Linked DNA regions of Homo sapiens: region 2 is linked to region 1. The links come from fine-mapping of genetic effects on gene expression. Tissue or cell type: fibroblasts. Region 1 holds a variant in brackets; the other region holds the start of a gene. All regions are shown on one strand. Distances are from middle to middle.

Region 1 (10,919 bases):
CCCCTGTGCTGAGGCTGCCGTTGGGGAGCTGAGGCGGAGGCAGGCCTGAGACTCAGGGCAGGGTCTGAATGGGGTTCAGGTGGGGGCACACCCCCTCCACAGGCATCTGTTTTGCATATGGCCCTGACCGATCACCAGGAGGGAAAGCTCTAAGGGCACGCTTACTTTATGTGGTCCCCTGTTCTTGCCCACCATCGAGCACCCTGTTGCCTCTGACCGCACCCAGCTGCATTGCTTGTGTGACCTGAATAAGGTAGCTCCAGGCCCAGCCTTTGGGGTCAGCAGCACCAGAACTGGTCCCTGGAAAATACCAATAAAGTCCTCCTTTCCAGGCTGCCCCTCCTGCCAGTCTCTGGGGGTGCTGGGGATAGGAGTCCTATGCTGTTGCTTTGGCACCTAGAAGCTGCAGCTCAGCACATGCTGGCAGGACCCTGAGTCACTGGGGTATCAGGAAGGGGTGAGGGCTCTTGGTGAATGTGGGCAGTCGGTAGAGGGTGGGCAGAAGCCCCCGTGCTAGAGAGTACAGGCACCACTTGGGCTGCTGAGAGCGGTAGGGGTTTGAGTCCTTCCTAAAGGGAGCTCCTCTGGTGTCCCTGAGCCATGGGTCCATGAGTGGCCCTGACCCCTGCCCTCCCCACTCCCTATCCTTCAGGCTCCCGCTGGTGTCCCTGGAGCATGGGAGGCTGCTGAGCGTGAGTGGCGGTGTCTGGCAGGAGCTGCGTGGCAGGGAGGGCGTCCATGGCTGCAGCCAACAAGGGTAAGTGCCTTCCTGGCGTGGTAGGACTTGCACAAGCTCTTCCGGTGGGCCCTGGTAGGAGGGCCATTGCTGCAGGTAGGGCCCGCACCACCTGTGTGTGTGTGTGTGCATGTGTGAGTGCGTGTGTGCTGGTGTGCGAATGTGATTGGGACTATGTCAGTGTTTGTGCCAGGTTCTGGGGCTCACGCAAGCCCTAGCAGGACCCCTGCAGAGCCCTGCTGACTCCTTAGGCTGGTCTGTGGAGGTGTGTGCTCTTGTGTCCCTGCCGTTCCACTGTGGGGGTTGGGGGAGCCGAGGGGCTTATGGTGAGCACTGAGACTGGTGATGTGGGAGGGCCACAGCAGGCTGTGGAAGGGAGTTTGGGTTTCTTTCAGAGTCCAGAAGGGATAAGGGAGGGTTTTAGGCCAGGGTGATCTGGTGAGATTTGAGGGTTCTGTGGGGCTCACCAGGGATTGTGGATGTGCCAGGCTGGTCCCCTGGGCCTCCGAGTATCCAAGAGGCCGGCTCAAAGCTGGATCAGGTCCTCCCGCCAAGAGGACCCTGGGCAGGGCTCTTGGTGGGAGGGCCTAGGGGCCAGGGGTCAGAGAGGACTAGGGCCGTGCTCTCGGCCTCTACAGCCTGAGCATTCATCCAGTCCAGGCCTTCAGCTCGGCTCCCGCCTACCCTGCCTGTCTCATCCGTCTGCCCTTTCTGGCCTTGGAGAACCCGACCCAGCTCAGAGACAGCTGAGGGCCTTGATGGTGGGCTAGACAGAGGAAGGAAGGGGGTCTTGAGGTGGGTCTGGAAGCTTCCTTGGATTCTCTCTTCTTGCTGCCAGGGGCCAGTGAGGTTTACTGGCAGCTGCAGCCTCGCCCAGGTGGCCTGAGTGTGTTTTTTGATCCCCCCTGTTTCTGCCACCCCAGGCAGATCCCCCAGAGCCTGTTCCTGTCCCTGCCCTTTCAGGTTTGGGTCATGAGGATGGGCAGGCAGGGGCCTCATGCACTGACACAGCTTAGGGGTAGGCCCCAGGGATGGGGAGCTTTGCACTGTGAAGGAGAGCACTGGGCAGGGTATCCAGAGGACTGGGCTGAGTCCCACGCTGCCCTGGCTTGGTGGGAGTCTGGAAGACTGTCCCTTCCTGGCTCTGGCACCAGCCCCACCCCCTCCAAGCAAGGGTCATATTAGCCAGTCCCTGAGTCCCCCCACGCTCACTCTCAGGGGATGGATTTTTGTGGGAGGGGCAGGTCGGGGCCGGCGGGGAGGCCTCAAGCCTCATGATCCTAGTGTCCATCTAGCCCTGAAAAGAGCCCAGCCAGTGGGAGCTGGATGATGTCAAGGGCAGTCTTGGGGGTGACGAGGGGACAAGGGGGAGGAGTTTCCTGGGGACAGGGAAAGCCCTCAGAGCCCTCTCCCACTCTTCCTAGGCAACAAGCCCAGAGTCCGGAGTATCCGCTTTGCGGCAGGCCACGATGCAGAAGGATCCCACAGCCACGTCCACTTTGATGAGAAGCTGCATGACTCGGTGGTCATGGTCACCCAGGAGAGTGACAGCAGCTTTCTGGTCAAGGTACATGCACACCTACCCCATCAGCAGCTTCTTCCCCTCCCCGGCTCTGCCTGGCTTCTGGGTGCCTATCCCCGTTCCTCTCAGCCGGGCTTATAGGCATGTCTGTGCCTTTCCCTGTGCCTTGGTTGCCCCATCTGTCAGATGGGAGGCAGTGAGATTTCAATGAGATGAGAGCATTTAGAATGTCATCCAGATCAAGATGAGCAGAGCCACTGCTGTCATCTGCTTCACCCAGACAATAGCAATGGAAGGCAGTGTCGTGGCTGTGGTGCCAGTGGCCTGAGTTCAGGTCTAGGCCAGCCATTCTGGCTCTGTGACCTTGGGAAGGTCACCTGAGTTTCTTTTCTCTCAAGTGGAGACAATCACATCCCCTAGAGTTGGTGTGAGAATGGAAGAATGTATGTATGTGATACAGGTGTGAAGCTAACTATGGCAATAACAAGGTGCAACTTTTTTTTTAACCCTTCTTTGCCAAATCTCTGGCTCAGTTAGGCTCTTTGAAGTAGTATTATCACCCCCTGTTTTCTGCTTGGTGGAGCTGGATTGGGGAAAATGGAGACTGAGGCCTTCAGGTTGGTCAATAAATCAGGGGTCCAGAGTTGAACAGGAGTGCCCTTGGGTCGGGGGAGGTCTGGCCCATTGAGATGGCCCTGAGTGGGGGGTCTGCTGCGCTGCTCAAAAGGGGCCCAGGTTTAGCCTGGCCAATGGGTCGAAACCCGTCTCTACTAAAAATACAAAAGTTAGCTGAGCGTGGTGGCGCACGCCTGTAGTCCCAGCTACTTGGGAGGCTGAGGCAGAAGAATTGCTTGAACCCAGGAGGCTGAGGTTGCAGTGAGCTGAGATTGTGCCACTGCACTCCAGCCTGGGCAACAGAAAGACTCTGTCTCAAACAAACAAACAAAAAAGAACCTGGGGGGCCCAGGTTTGTATCCATTTCTGTCCAACTCTGAAGTTCCCACTCTTTGTCCTACAGCTGACAGCTTCCCCAAGAGAGTAAATGGAACAAACCAACACTTAAAAATAGCTCTCTCCCCTCATTGCAAAATCCACTCATGTCTTAATAGACATGAGAAAATTTGGAAGACAGAGAAAATATGAAGAAATTTAAAAGTACCCACAGTCATACTATCCCAAAATAACCATGGTTAATATTCTGATGTGTGTTATTTCAGCTTTTTTTTTTCTTTTTGAGACGGAGTCTTGCTGTCTCCAGGCTGGAGTACAGTGGCGCCATCTCAGCTCACTGCAACCTCCAGCTCCCAGGTTCAAGCAATTCTCCTGCCTCAGCCTCCAGAGTAGCTGGGATTACAGGCGCGTGCCACCACTCTCAGCTAATTTTTTATATTTTTAGTAGAGACGGGGTTTCACTCTGTTGGCCAGGATGGTCTCGATCTCCTGACCTCGTGATCCGTCCGTGTCGGCCTCCCAAAGTGCTGGGATTACAGGCGTGAGCCACCACACCTGGCTTATTCCAGCTTTTTAAAATGTTATTTATTTATTTATTTATTTTTCTGAAAACACTATGGTGATGGATCCAGCTTATTTTAAAAAGCTTTGTTTCCAAAAACAAAAGCTGGCCTCACCGTGTCCACACTGGTTTTTGCTTGCTTCTGTTGTGAACTGTCTCCTACCTGTGTCAGTAAATAATTTTCCACGAGATTTTACAACTGCCTACTGGTCCATGATACGTGTCATCATTGACTTAGCTGGCTCCCTGTTCCTGGGTGTTACGGCTGTTTTTGTTTTCATTGTTATAAATAGGGCAGCGAAGAGTATTTTTCTGCACATCTCTATTTCCCCTGGAAAATTCTATAAGTAGTACCCCTGGGTCACAGGGTCACAGTTAGCAGGTACAGCCAGAAAGCCTTCTTGAGGGATGTGCCCCCTACCAGCAGAGCATGAGGGGGGCACATGGATTGAAGTTTGTCATGTAGCAATATCAACCTGGTCCCATTGAATGGCTAAAACTCTCTGCAGCCAGTCCCAGTTGGCCCCCAGGGATGGGGCTGCCCAGCCCCAGTAACTGTGAGCAGGACTCTGTGTGCCCATGCAAGCTGGGAGTACAGCAGGCACCCTTTGCCTGCTGGCGTGGCACCCCCACCAGCCCCCCTGCTCAGCAACCACCCTGGCTTGTGACCCTTCATACTACTGGAGTTTCCAAGAATGGCATTTGTCCCAGAGGGTGGTTGTCACCAAGCACTGTGAATGAACAACAGAAATTGCTTGGGTCGTGAGTATGGGCCATTGGACACAGCCTTTGAGTGGGCAGGCAGGCATCCCCAGTCCAGTGCCAGCAGGGCAGCCAGGAGCCCCAGTTCAGTGGCTGGTGCCAGGCCTGTGGGCCAGCTCTGGGCTGACACAGCTGGTCTACTGTCATATCTCTAATTTGATCCCATCCCTCATCCCACGCTATCTGTGGCCTGGTGTCATCCTATGAGCGAATGGAGGACCAGCATCCCTGACCCTGGGATACTGGCAGTGATGGGGACAGGTGAATGACCCATGGGACTTTGAACTTTCCCTTGTAGGCAGTGGGTGGTGCCTTGCTGGGTGCCATGCATAGCAGGAATGGCCAAGAAGTCTAGGGAGGACTTGACCCTGGCCACACTACATAGCCTTTGGCCAGTCATTTTGTGGTTTCCATTTTCCTGTCTATGAAATGAGCCACTGAGGACTTTGGGGCCCGTGAGACAGATGCTGAGGATCTTGCTGGCCAAGCTGTAGGGCTGGGACCCTCAAGGGGTCTGTGAAAGGGCTGGGG[CCACTGGGCTGGGGG/G]TCGATCAGCTGGAGTGATGGAGGGAGTTGGGCTTTCTGGGCTCTCTGGGGAAGCAGGTGCTGGGGCGCATGGGATCATAGGTGGCACAACTGGGTGGGCCTGCGGGAAGCAGGAAGTGAAGGTGCCTCCCTCCCTCACCTCTCCTGCTGTAGGTTGGCTTCCTGAAGATCCTGCACAGGTATGAGATTACCTTCACTCTGCCCCCAGTGCACAGGCTGAGCAAGGATGTCCGCGAGGCACCTGTCCCCAGCCTGCACCTCAAGCTCCTCAGCGTGGTGCCCGTCCCTGAAGGTGCGTCCCCTCCTCCAGCAGGGCCTGGATGGGTGTGGGAGTGAGAACATGGGGTGCTCCCTTACTTCCAACTAGGGTGGATGGGCAGCTCAGCAAGTCGGGGATGTGGCACCTCTTTGTGAGCTTGCACTGTGGCAGCATGGCAGGTCCCACACTCCAGGCCTTGCTCCCTGTCCTGAACAGAAGTCCATGAGCTCATACTTCCCTGTACCTGCCCATGGTGTGATGGTTACCTCCGTGGGGCAGTAACCAAGATGGGAGCTGCTGAGGAACTGGTTTGAAGCCTCCAGCCTTCCCTCCTGCCTCCCTAACCCTCTAGAAAAACCTGCTGGAGCTACACACACCGTGTGGATAACTCCTAGCACCCACCAGTCCCAGACCTTGGGTTTCAGGCTGCTGTTCCTATCAGGCTCACTTCAGGCCCTGCCCCATGCCCCACTCCCAGCCTGGCAGAGGCTAGGGTGTCAGTTTCGTGGAGCTCCAGCTTCAGTTTCATGTCCCCGTCACCAGCCTCTTCATGACCTTGCCCTTCAATGGATTGACACCCCTCAGGCCTTTACCTCTTGCCATCGGATCTGCTCAAAGCCTACCCTGCCCTGCCCCCCTCACTCCTCATCACCGCCTCTCCCTGCCTTCCTTTTGGGAGAAAACAGCCAGACCTTCTTTTGGAAGCCTGAATTGGACCCTACTTCATTCACTCTTGGAGCCACATTGGGGTGGCCCACAGGCTGGAGGCATGTCCAGCTCACTGAAGAATGGGTTTTTGAGACCTGTGCACCCCTGCTAGGGGGAATGGGTCTCTGGGCTCCAGAAGGGCCATCCCTGCCCCTTTCTTGGGGGGGCTTAGCATGCAGTCCCCCCATGGTGGTGGGTAGGGGCCCGTGAGTGCCAGGGGCAGGATCGGGGAGGCTGGGGGAGGTGCTGACCAATTGCCCCTGTCCCCGGGCAGGTTATAGTGTCAAGTGTGAGTACTCGGCGCACAAAGAGGGCGTCCTCAAAGAGGAGATACTGCTAGCCTGCGAAGGTGGCACTGGCACCTGTGTGCGCGTGACGGTGCAGGCCCGCGTCATGGGTGAGAGCGTGAGGCTCCTGGTTGGAGGAGGGATGCACAAGCTCGACTGCGAGGGTTTCTGTCCTCCTCAGGGAACCAAGGCTGAACAAGGGATCCTTGCCCGGCTCAGGGGTTCTCAACCTCCTTGGCAGGTCCCTACCTCCAGCTGATCCCTGAGGGAAGGGGAGGGGTCCCCTTAGTGGGCCGCATGGGTGGGGCCGGGGGCCAGCATGGCACTGACTTGCACCCTGCCTTGCAGACCGGCACCACGGCACGCCCATGCTGCTGGATGGTGTCAAGTGTGTGGGCGCCGAGCTGGAATACGACTCAGAGCACAGCGACTGGCACGGCTTTGACTGAGGCCCGAGGCCCCGCCTGCCCCGGGCCCCTCAGCCTTAAACCCCGCCTTGTCCCCCCGACATGCTGCGTGATGGTGTGGCTTCCTCGCCCCTCTCTGGGGTGGGTGTGGGGGTGGAGTGGCCTTGCCCACGCCTCTCACCTCTGCCTTCATTTGTGCTGCCACCCTGCCCCTCCCTCGTCCTCCTCTCCCACTTCCTCCTCTCTGTGTGCCTCAGTCTCCTGCCGGAAGAAATGGGTTGAGCCCGAAAGGAGGCTGTCTGAGGAAGGGAGAGGGAGGGCCTGGGGTGGGTCCCCCACTCCCCACCCCAAGCCACAGGGACTCCCACCAGGGTCTGGGAGAGGACGGAGCTGGCTCTGTGGCGTCGTGGCCCCATTACTGCTGCCTTGCTTCAGCCACCTCTCCTGCCCCTCCCTAGTCCCCACTGCTGTCCACCATGAGTAGGAGGGAGGTGCAGTCCCCAGCCCCCACCCCTCAGGTCTGTGTTACTTGGTTTTTAAGCGACTGGTTGGGATAGAACCCTAAAGAAATAAACTTCCAGTGGATACCGGAGGCCAGGTGGATTTTTGTTCTCTGGGGTTGGGGTAATGCCTACTCCTTTGCAGATGGGCCAGGGAAAGACTTGGGTAGACTCACTCAGGAGGCAGGGGCACCGCGTGGTATTATAGCACCTAGCCCCACAAGAGGTATGCACAGGTGGTGGCATTTTAGGCCAGAAGCTGGCTGCCAAGACAATTAATTTGAATGAGGAGAGAGGGACCTCATGTGTAGGCCAGAGAGGTCTTAAGCAGTGGAGTTGTTTGGGATGCTTGATGGGAGACAGCAGCACCCCCTTCTGGTCAGTTCCCTATGCACAGCTGAAAGCTTTCTCCCTTCTCTCTCTAGCACCGGGAACCCTTGCATTCCTCCCACTATTAGGGTCTCCACGCCATATCAGCAGGCTGTGGCTTCCCCTTGAGCATAAATGTTTTATTGTCACCTCAGGGCTCTCAGGCAGGTGGGGCTGTTGCATGCCAGTTAGAGGGAAGTGCCTGACATTTCACACTTTAGGAAACTGAGGCCCATGAGCGGTAAGAGAATGTCCTAAAGGCATACCGAGTCAATAGCAGAGCTGGGACCACCCCTCATTGCTCCCTCTGGCCTCCCCATCCACCCTCCAGCTGCTCTTCCATGGCTGGGGTGGGGTGCAAGTGGGGTCCTTCATAAGCTGACCTTGGGGCCTTCCCAGACGGGTGTTTTGTCTCGAAAGAAATGCTACCCTCATAATTGCCTCCACCACAATAATGTTCCCACCTCCACATTAGAGATCTACTGCCCTTTCCACAATTCACAGTCATATTTGGGTGGTCAGCACCACACCAGGACTGTGCCACCACACCTGTCCCTCTGGAGTCCACTTCCAGTCACTTTCCTACGGCACAGGGTTTTTCTGCCTGGCTCCCGGTTGGGGCTGAGTCGGTCGATGAGTGAACTTCAGCCCTGCAGGTCCAGACCCTGCACAACCTCCTTCCTCCTGCGGCTCCTCCTGCCATCCCACCCCCACCCCTACTCGGCCAAGTTCAGACCAGGACTCTTCTGTTGCGTTCTTCCTTCGGGGTCACATGCCCCTTGCCGGGCTGCGCGCTCTGTCTTGCAAACCTCTTCTCTTACCCGTTCAGTCCTTGGCGGGTCCCTTCAGCCTGGCAGTCAGCGGACCAGTGCCCAATCCCAAAGCCAGTCTCTGGGTGTGTCCCCACCCACTCTCCCATGACCTTATCTCCCCCGGGGCTGGAGGGCGTGGAAAGGCGCAGACTGCAGAACTATCGTTTCCCCCGCCCCAACCCGCTCCGCAGGCCCCTGAACCGAAAGAGGGCGGGGCCGGGCAGACGGCGCTGGCACCGCGCCGGCGCGCCCTCAGTTGGAAAGAAAGTCGATGGACGCGCGCACGGAGCGATTGGTGCTGACGTCGACGGCGGTGACCTTAATTTCGGTGTCGCCAAACTGCATGGCGGCGCGGATCTCGCGGCGGCCGGGAGGCGCGCCGGCGGTGTCCTGGCCGCAGTCGGCGGGCTCAAGCTCGAGGCTGAGCGCGCCGCATTTGCGCACGCCGGGGTCGGTGATGAAGCGCGCATCCTCTGCCGCGCAGCAGTACAGGTTGATGAGTACGCGCCGCTGGCCGGGACGCGCCGGGCAGTAGCTGCGCCGCACCTCCTCGCCCAGGGCCACCGACTGCTCGGCGGCCACGAAGCGCTCGAAGACGTCGGTGCACCAGCGGCGGCCGTCGCGAACCAGCAGCTTTTCGGGCGGGTGGCGCCCAGGCACAAAGCGGTTGAGCACGCCCACGCCATAGGTGAGCGGCGAGCGGCGGACCCGCACCACGCCCGGCGCCTGGCCGAACAGCACCGCGCCTTTGAGGATGGTGAGGCCCACGTCGTGCGGGACCACGACACGCAGACCGCGGGCGCCCAGCGCCGCCTGCACCGCGTGCTGCAGCACCGCTGACTCGGCGAAGCCGCCCACTAGGAACAGCAGCTTCACACCCTGCACCTCCGGCCGTGCCAGCAGGGCCTCTGCGGGACAGGACGGGGGGACGCGGGTGAAGGGGGCAGAGGAGAAGGGGCGGGGGAGAGAGAGCCACTGAGGCCACCACTAGGCGGCCACCGGCGCCTCCCCTCCCTAGCCTGTACCTACCTGGCGACTAGAAAGTAGCCATTTGAGCACTTTCTTTGAGAGCTCACGGGAGTCCTCGAGGGCTTCGCCTCCCCAACACTCACGCTCCCCACTTCTCTCCCACCACGACGTGGAGGACGAGAGATAAGGATATGCATTTTACACGTATTAAACACCTAGACATTGTGTGCAAGACATTGTGCTCACTCTAGGTACTTCAGCTCATTTTATCCCTGTGATAACGTTTTGAGAACCCAATACTATCACCCCATTTTATAAATGGGGAAACTGAGGCACCAGAAGTTTTTTGCCTTGGCAAGACTACATATCAACCCTCTAGCTCTTAATCACCACTGCACTTCATCCCGCAGGTGTTCTAGATGATTCTAGGTCTCATCACAGTGTATGGATGTGTGGAGGTATCTAGGCACTGATGGGGGGGAATTATTCTGCATCTGTTTGTTCATGTAGGGGCGGGTGGGGGACCAAGCTCAGGTGCTCACCTATGTGCTGGATGATCCCGCTGACGGTGGGCTGAAAGAGCTCGTTCATGGCTTCACAAGACATTCGGAGCATCCCCTGTGAGGACCACTTCACGAAGTTCACGCTGTTGGTGGTGAAAGGGGCAAATATCCATCGGTCAGGGCCCAGCTGCTTGCCCCAGTTTGGGGTCCGTGGTCCTTATTCTCTACCTCTGCCTCCAGGCAGAAGTGCCTGGGCACCGACTGCACGTGGTGTCTGGAGGACTGGACCTGCGGGATGTTAGTCCCTTATCTCCACCCTACTCACTCAGAGGATTTAGTTGCCAGCCTGCTCCAGGTTCCAGGTACGAGGTCCTGGGAGGGGCCTCCCCTTGCTTTGGTGCAGGGAAACCGAGGAGCATGGGCCCGCAGGGCCCGGGGTGGGGGTGTAGAGAAGGCTGGGAGGAGATAGGCATTGCCGCCTCCCCGCTATGATTCTCTGTCTTGCCCCAGTTCGGGCTGCGGATTCCGTGGGTGGAGCCTGCTGGGCTGGGGCACTCACTCGCCGCTCCCCGCCGCCCCACCCCGACGCCCTGCTGGCTTAGTGTATATGTGGGATGAATCAGGCAGACCCCCACCGTTCCTTGGGGCCCGGGACCCTCCAGTGCACGGTCATTCCCGGGTCGGCAAACCCTGCCTGAGCCCGCGGGCTCAGGACCCACCTGCTCCTGCGCAGAGCGGTCTCCACGTTGTGGCCCCGCTGCTTGCGGTAGAAGTCAATGAAGGAGAAGGGCAGCGAGATGTTGAGCGCCCCTGCACGGTGTGGGCCAGCAGTGCGCTTGCGAGCCTCGAAGGCGATGGTCAGATCTACCCAGGCTGCCGGCCGTTGCCTTTTGAAGGTGGCGATGAAGTCCTCGCCGAAGATGCGGCACAGCAGCTGCTCGAAGGCCAGGTCCACGCCCACCGCGCCATAAGGGCCCCCTGGGGTGGAGCAGGGGGCGAAGAGGGCGTCAGCGCTCGCCGGGCCGCC
Region 2 (7,908 bases), 21 kb after region 1:
TTTATTTGTTTACTTTTGGCTGGAGTCCTTTGAAGCAAATCCCAGCCATCATGTTGTTTCACCCGTGAACTCTTTAATACATCTCTCCAACAGATAAAGACGTTTTAAACAATGTCATCGCAACACCATTCTCATGTCTAATGAAATTAACAGTAATTCCTTAAATCTCATCTAAAGTCCCACAGTTCCCAGCTTGTGTCAAAAAATGGCTTTACTTTCTTGGAATCAGGATCCTCCTAAATGTTTTCTGGTGCCTGCTCTGTGCCAGGTGCTGGGAGATAGTGACCCAGAGAGACACTGTCCCTGCCCTAGAAACCAACGGTCTGATGGAGGAGATAATCAGGCAAGTGATTTTGAAATGACAAGCGTTGCTGAGTGCTAGGAAGGTCAAAGTTGGATAATGCGGGGTGGGAAGAGGACATGGTAAGTCTGGACAGAGGGCTGGGCTGGGCTTACCCTGCAGGCAGGGCCTGTGCACCCTATTTCAGATTTGATTTTATATGAAGGGCAACAGCAAATCTTGAAAGGTTTGAGGTGGCAGGGTGGGGTGGGGGCATGACTCAATTTGTCTTTTCTTTTTTCTGAGACAGGGTCTCACTCTGTTGCCCAGGCTGGAATGCAGTGGCACGATCTTGGCTCACTGCAACCTCTGCCTCCCAGGTTCAAGCCATTCTCCTACCTCAGCCTCCTCAGTAGCTGGGATTACAGGTGAGTGCCTCCATGCCCAGCTAATTTTTGTATTTTTAGTAGAGACGGGGTTTCGCCGTGTTGGCCAGGCTGTTCTCGAACTCCTGACCTCAGGTGATCCGCCCACCTCGGCCTCTCAAAGTGCTGGGATTACAGGCATGAGCCACCGTGCCTGGCCTTCGTTGTTTGTTTGTTTTGAGATAGGGTGTCACTCTGTCACGAGGAGAACCTACATTTAAAGGCTGAACAGAGGAATATATACCGGCCCAGGAGACTGAGATGCCTCATGGTCTCATGAAGATTGTACCAAGAGATGGGTAAAGCTAGATCCCTGTAAAAGGTCCCCAGATGAGACTGGAAACACTGTTTTAGTGGCCCAAGGGAGGTAAGCTTAGGTGAGGAGTGAGCAAGAGGTGACATGAGCTAGAACTTCTTTTCTTAAGATGGAGTTTCACTCTGTTGCCCAGGCTGGAGTGTAGTGACGCAATCATATTGAGCTAGAATTTCTGAAAAGCTTGGCTGAAATCAGGAATACATGTGAGGGCAGTAGTTGGAGGGCGCTAAAGCTGAAGGGAGGTGAGGAAGAATATTTATTTTCTAAGATGGGAGGGGCTCGATCCTGTCTATGAAGTTCTGGGGCCAGGCTATAGGCAGGATATTTCAAACCATCAACAGCTTTGTTACTCAAAGTGTGGGCTGAGGATCAGCAGCATTGGTATCACCTGGAAGCTTGTTAGAAATGCAGAACCTCAGGCCCCAGCCCAGACCTGCTGAATCAGAACATGTATTTCATATTTATTTATTTATTTATTTATTTATTTATTTATTTATTTATTTATTTTTGAGGCAGAGTCTCACTCTGTCCCCCAGGCTGGAGTGCAGTGGCGTGATCTCAGTTCTCAGCTCACTGCAATCTCCATCTCCTGGGTTCAAGTGATTATCCTGCCTCAGCCTCCCAAGTAGCTGGGGCCACAGGCATGCGCCACCTAATTTGCCTAAAATGCCACCTAAAAATGCCTGGCTAATTTTTGTATTTTTAGTAGAGTCGGGGTTTCACCATATTGGCCAGGCTGGTCTCGAACTCCTGGCCTCAGGTGATCCGCCCGTCTCAGCCTCCCAAAGTGCTGGGATTACAGGCGTAAGCCACCGCGTCTGGCCTATTTTAACAAGATTCCCAGGTGATTCAGGTGCACATTGAAGTTTGAGAAGTGTTGCTCAACAGTGTCTCTCAGCCAGTCTGCAGACCACTGACACTATGTTCTCATTGGTGGGCCTGGCTGCTCCTCTAAACAAAGGAGGAGGCTACGCAGGGCCAATGCATTCCTTCTCTGTCACCAGCGGCCCAATCTGAAAGTTTTGCTATAGAACACAGGCAGACACAGAGCTGGCTCTGGCATGCCCATAGACACATGCACACACCCTTGCTCACACAGTTCACACAAACCAGCCCCATTGTGGACAGACACCTGGACTCCCACACACTCTTGTATGTCCAGGATTCTCCTGCATGGCCAGCACCATGGAGATTTCCAGACACTCTTGCTGTCCTCTGTACCATTGGAGTTGGATGCTCAGGAATCAGAATCAGAAGAAGGATGGGTGCTGGTTGTGGGCATGCATATAGCAGCTGGCTGTTGAGGAGAAAAGGGAAAGCACAGAGAGGGGGAGGGGAGGGTTCTTAGGAGCCAGGGGCAGGAGCCCAGAGCCCAGCTCAGGATGATGGAGTGGGATGCTGAGCTGGGTCCCACCAGCTCATGCGAGCTGATTCTTTCTATCTCTTCCCAATTCTGCATTCAATGACATCACATTGGTAGCTTCAAATCAGTCATGGCTGGGAGTATTTACAAGACAGAAATTGGCAAACACCATAAATCAGGATTTTATCCTTCTTCCAGAGCTGATTGGAAACCATTAACCAGCATACTACTGGATCAAGGTCTCGAGGGAGGAGCTGGCAGCCTTATTTGTATGTTGTTCTGATTCTTCAGCAAACACTTATCGAGATTCTTCATGCCAGGCTCTGTGCTAAGCACTGGGGAACCACTTTGTTGAATGAATGAATGGATTTTCTGGACCGAGGCTATTGTATCTGGAGGAGAAACAACCTAGAACCACCAGAAAAAAAAGACTCTGGGCCGGGCGCCGTGGCTCACTCCTGTAATCCCAGCACTTTCAGAGGCTGAGGCAGGTGGATCACCTGAGGTCAGGAATTCGAGACCAGCCTGGCCAACATGGTGAAACCTTGTCTCTACTAAAAATACAAAAATTAGCCAAGCGTAGTGGCAGACGCCTGTAATTCCAGCTACTCAGGAGGCTGAGGCAGGAGAATCGTTTGAACCTGGGAAGCAGAGGTTGCAGTGAGCCAAGATCGCGCCATTGCACTCCAGCCTGGGCGAGAAGAGTGAGACCCCATCTCAAGAAAAAAAAAAAAAAAAGACTGAGTCCTCGCTCTACACTGGATTCCACATCCAAACCATGGGCCTATACTCTTCCCAGCTATCGGAAGCTTGTCCAGTTATCTACCGTCTCTCATTGTGCGATATGCTGAGTGCCCCTATGCTGGGGTTTCAGGGATGGCAAGAGCCTATTATGGCACCTAGCGTGAGTGCATCATGCCACATCTCTGTGCCTCAGTGCCCTTTCCTGTAGAATGGGTGACACAGAGGGCTTATGTTAACAAGTCCAGATATGCAAGGTATTGATAAAAGCAGGGAGTTGGGCAGGTTTGAGCAGTGTTCTTTCCCTTCATGATGCAGATTCTGAATTTTCTTGTTAGATATTTTGGTCTTACTGAGAATCGCATTCTAGTCATCATGAGTTCTTTAAGGAAGGAGGTAGGAACTAAATCAATCTGTGTTAAGGGCTGGGTGTGGTGGCTCATGCCTGTAATTCTAGCACTTTGGGAGGTCAAAGTGGGTGGATTGCTTGAGCTCAGGAGTTCGAGACCAGCCTGGGCAACAGCAAAACCCCATCTCTACGAAAAATACAAATATTAGCCCAGCGTGGTAGTGCATGCCTAGAGTCCCAGCCACTTTGGACGCTGAGGTGGGAGAATTGCTTGAGCCCGGAAGGTTGAGGCTGCAGTAAGTCATGATCACACCACTGCACTCCAGCCTGGGTGACAGAGTGAGACCCTGTCTCCAAAAAAAAAAAAAAAAAAATTGTGTTAAAGAAGGAGGATCCCACGGATTCCCCGAGAGGTGGAGGTAAGCCAAGAGGTGGCTGACTGCCAAGCGAGCACACACACCCAGGGACACTTAAGGAGAGTGCTGACCACAGAACACGGGACAAGCCCAGCTCCCGAAAGCTAGGTCTGGGCAGAGTCCACAGCTGAAAATGAGGGGAGGCTGAGCCCCGCTTCAGGGGCCTACTAATTTCAGACTGGTGGTGCCTATGGGTTTGAGAGTAATTGAGTGGGACAGTTTGATTTACACAGAAAGGAACTCCATTTCCTGGCTACAAGCACATGCCAAACTCTGGCCCCAGCCTGATCCCTAACCCTGCCCATGGACTGACCCCTAACTCTTGGCTTCATATTGACCTCTAGTCATCAGCTTCACCCTGACCCCTGGCCCTGACTTCTACCCAATAGGCAGGGCCGATTAGTCACTGGGGACCAGGATAGGGTGTGGCCCAGCAGGAACTCACAACCAGAGACTCCCATCCCAGAGTATCCCCTGGTCTTACAATAGCCTAGGACGAACCCTGCCCCCACTCCCGCTCCTTTTTTTGAGACAGGGTCTTGCTCTGTTGCCTAGGCTGGAGTGCAGTGGCACGATCACGGCTCACTGCAGCCTCGACCACCTGGCCTCAAGCGATCCTCCCACTTCATCCTCCCAAAGTGCTGGGATTACAGGCGTGAGCCACCTTGCAGGGGCCCAACCCTTTGCCTGACAGAATCCTCGGAGGATCTCTTCCTGTGTGGGGTGTTTCAGCTGGGCGCTCATGTCCCCAGGAGCACTATGGGAATGCAGTGTTCTGGGTTTCAGGGCTCCACACGATGCCTGTGTAGACAAAGAGCCCACCCAGGTCATTCCAGCTCCCCTCCTCACTAGGACCCTGCCTCTTCCGCCTGCTGCTCTCTGCTCAGCACCCAGCCAGCCCTGTAATGGAACAGGACTCCGTCAGCGGGCTAAGTGAGGCCACAGGCGTTTCTTCCAAGCCACAGACTGGGCCAACCAGGGCCCAAAGCACAGATCAGAAACGGCACCCAAAGGGCTGCCCCACTCTGTTCTGGAGAGGAGCCCTTAAGAAGATGGGACCATGTGTGGCTGAGTGAGGTGGCTGCCCCATCCTGCGCTGGGGCAGGGAGTGACAGAAATGGCCTCCCATGGCCCCTCCCTGTCCTCATCTTTGCTTTCCATACATCCTGCCGCACCCCCTTGGGTCCTCATCATGGGAGCAGCCAGTTCACAAACAACAGAGCCCCTCCCATGCTCTGCCCACAGCCCCCCATTACCCCTCTGGCCTGGGATTCCTGCGCTGCGTCTGCTCTCCGGAGGGTCCCTAGTTTCGTGATCACTCCCTTCCAGTCTCTCTCATCAACACACGCTAACCTCACAGATAGGCTCCACTGCCCTAGCGGGAACCTGGACCCCACCCCACCTGGACCTCAAGCTGGCCCGGAAGACCAGGTCCCAGCCTCAGACCCTGGCACCTGGGCCACTCAGTACTCTGTTGCGCTTCGGGACCACAGGGCCTGGGACCCCTGAGGCACCCCCCAACACACACACATACACTCAACTCCCAGGTTTCCACCTCAGACCTAGGCACCGGGTCCCTCAGTTTGGCTCCCTGGAGCAGGCCCCAGCCCACACCAGTCCTGCCAGCCCCTAAGACACAGGAGTTTCTCCAGCCTAAGCCTCTGAGCAGCTGTGCGAGGGACAGGGGAGGTGGTCCCCCGAAGCCCAGGTGGGAGACCAAGGTCGCTGCCCCAAGTGCCTTCCCGAGCCCGCAGCCACGCTGCAGAGAGGGGCTTGCAGATCTGTCCCCACCAGACAAAGTCTGGAGGTTTTTGGTGGGGTCTCAGCCGACAGCCCGGGACGGCAAACCTCCTCGCCTTTCTCCACTCGGGGCGCCCGGCAGCCCCCGCCCCAGAACTCACCTCCGCCCTCCCGACAGCTCCAGCCCCGTCCAGCCGCCGCGATCCCGGGCCCGCAGCTCGTTGGCCGTGCCCGCTGCGGCGGCCGCAGCCCTCGACGTGCGCCCGGCCCTGAGGCCTCCCGCCTCCTCGCGCCGCCCACCCCGCCCGCCGCCCCCTCCCCCAGGCCGGATGGCCGCGCCGCCTGCGCCGCCGGGTCGGCCCGCGCTCCCGGCCCAGATGTGCGAGGCCGGGGCGGGGCCTGCCTGCGCGGGCCTCCGCCGAGGGGCCCAGCCTGGTCCCGCGTCCAGGGCCCCTCCCTGAGCCCCTCCTGCGCCTCCCCCGCTCCCCTAGCAGCCCAGGGGGTGGGAGAAGGGAGAGGGGGCGGCGGAGGGAGGGGAAGAGGAGTTCCAGACCCTGGTCGGCCTCCTGCGGTCCAGCTGCTGAGGGGCTCCCCCGCCCCGCCCCCACAGGCCCACCTTGGGGCTCAGCCTCGGCCCCTTCAGCGAGGGCCCAACAGCGGAGGGGGAAGGGCCCGCCCTAGACCCCTCCACTTCCCTGCCCCAGACCCCTCCAGTCCCTTGACCCGGAACCCTCTCTCCTCCCACCCCTACTGCCCCTACAGCTTCCCTAGCCCGGTCCTCAGTGGCCAGAAAAGAGGCAGAATTGCGGATGAGGGCAGGCCCTCGGGTCCCCAGGCTAGGCCTAGCTCTGTCTTTGCTCAAGTTCAGACGACGGAGGCGCGGAGTCTCACAGACTGAGGCCCCATGCCCGGCAAGGGGACCACTCCGCACCAGGGGGCACCCAGCCTCTCCTCCGAGGCACACAGCCTTTTTCTTGTCCTAACCGGGGCCCTTCTGGGGATGCTGGGACTTGGCCTCCAGACAGGGGGTTTGTGGGGTGAAGGTCTCTTTCTGGGCTGGGAACCCGTGGCTCATGCCTGTAATCCAGCGCTTTGGGAGTCTGAGGTGGGAGGATGGCTTGAAGCTGGCTGGGCAACAAAGACCAGCCTGGGCAACAAAGGGAGACCCTGTCTCTAAAAAGTTTTAAAAATTAGCCAGGTGTAGTAGCTCACGTCTGTAGTCCTAGGTACTCAGGAGGCTGGGGTGGAGGATTGCTTGAGCCCAAGAGTTTGAGGCTGCAGTAAGTGTGATCACACCACCGCACTCCAGCTTGGGTGACAGAGAGAGAACCTGTCATAAATAAATGAATGAACGGATGAATGAATGAATTTCTGCTAGGTCCCTCGTGGAGCTTTCAAAGGCAGCTGACTCGTTCTGCCTGTTCCCCTTCCCCTCTGCCCCATGTGCCCCCACAGAAGTTCCAGATGCTTCTCAGTCCACCTCCCTTTGTGCCTGGGAAGGCTGCCCGTCAGAGAAGGGCCCCACAGCCCCATCAAATGAGGCACAGTTCTTGGGACATCCCTTTTGCTCTTCCACTCCAAACCTTTGCAAGGGCTATTTTCCCTCCCTGAAATGCTCTCCTTCCTCCTCTCTGCCCAGCCAAAATGCTCCCCAGCTACAGTGTCACCTCCCTAGGCTTGCTGCCTTTCTTCTCAGAGCCACTGCCCCAGAGGGCCTCCTTAATGAGGTCAGGCATGGTGAGTGCGCTGCACCAACAATTCTGGATACCAAGCCAACATGGTATCCAATCAGCAGTCTCCACAGGCCGCCTCCCAGTGTGCGTCTATGTGTGTCCGTCTGTGCATCTGTTGGTGTGTTTGTGTCTGTGCTTAAGTGTGTCTTTGTATGTGTAAGACTTTGCTTATATGTCTGTTCATGTGTGAGTGTGTTTCTTGGATTGTCTGACTGTGTCTGTGTGTGCGCTAGTGTGTGACTGTGTTTCTGTATTACGTGTGTGTGTTGCTGCATCTTGTGTCTTTGTGTCTGTGTGTAACAGGGGTCCTTGGTTGGGGCCTGCAGGCCTGCACCTCGTTTGAGGCTGAGCAGAGCCAGGAGGGATTGGAGTGTGTGTCTGCTGTGCATGTCCTGGGGTCTGCAGGGTCTGGCCCCTCACACTCATGCCTGCCCCTTTTTTCTTTTTCCCTTCCACCTGGTTTCCCTGTCCCCAACTCCAGCTCCAAAGATGGGCTCGTCTCTGAGGGCCACGGCAGCAGGCTCTGAGCAGGGGTGAAGACTCAT

What was found. PIP is the estimated chance that this variant, and not a neighbour inherited with it, causes the effect. A credible set is the group of variants that fine-mapping cannot tell apart.
Region 2: HSPA12B starts here. The variant in region 1 is the best candidate, but not a certain one, in a credible set for the expression of HSPA12B in fibroblasts (GTEx, PIP 0.84).

The regions. Positions count from the first base shown.
Region 1 is chr20:3,749,920-3,760,838 of GRCh38, reverse strand. It overlaps HSPA12B (heat shock protein family A (Hsp70) member 12B), which reads right to left. Exons shown (of 13, transcript NM_052970.5): 11 at 10,612-10,870; 12 at 9,932-10,035; 13 at 7,728-9,328. The coding sequence ends at 8,673. ADISSP (adipose secreted signaling protein) reads left to right here. Exons shown (of 6, transcript NM_001258429.2): 2 at 653-757; 3 at 2,161-2,303; 4 at 5,232-5,370; 5 at 6,320-6,442; 6 at 6,681-7,331. The coding sequence starts at 739. The coding sequence ends at 6,781. Among named protein-coding and RNA genes, the nearest start is that of ADISSP, 12 kb to the left of the region's middle. RefSeq lists a silencer at 10,840-10,919. The variant CCACTGGGCTGGGGG/G (reference allele first, on the strand shown) is at 5,065.
Region 2 is chr20:3,730,678-3,738,585 of GRCh38, reverse strand. HSPA12B (heat shock protein family A (Hsp70) member 12B) reads right to left here and starts at 5,901. Exons shown (of 13, transcript NM_052970.5): 1 at 5,792-5,901. RefSeq lists an enhancer at 5,260-5,839.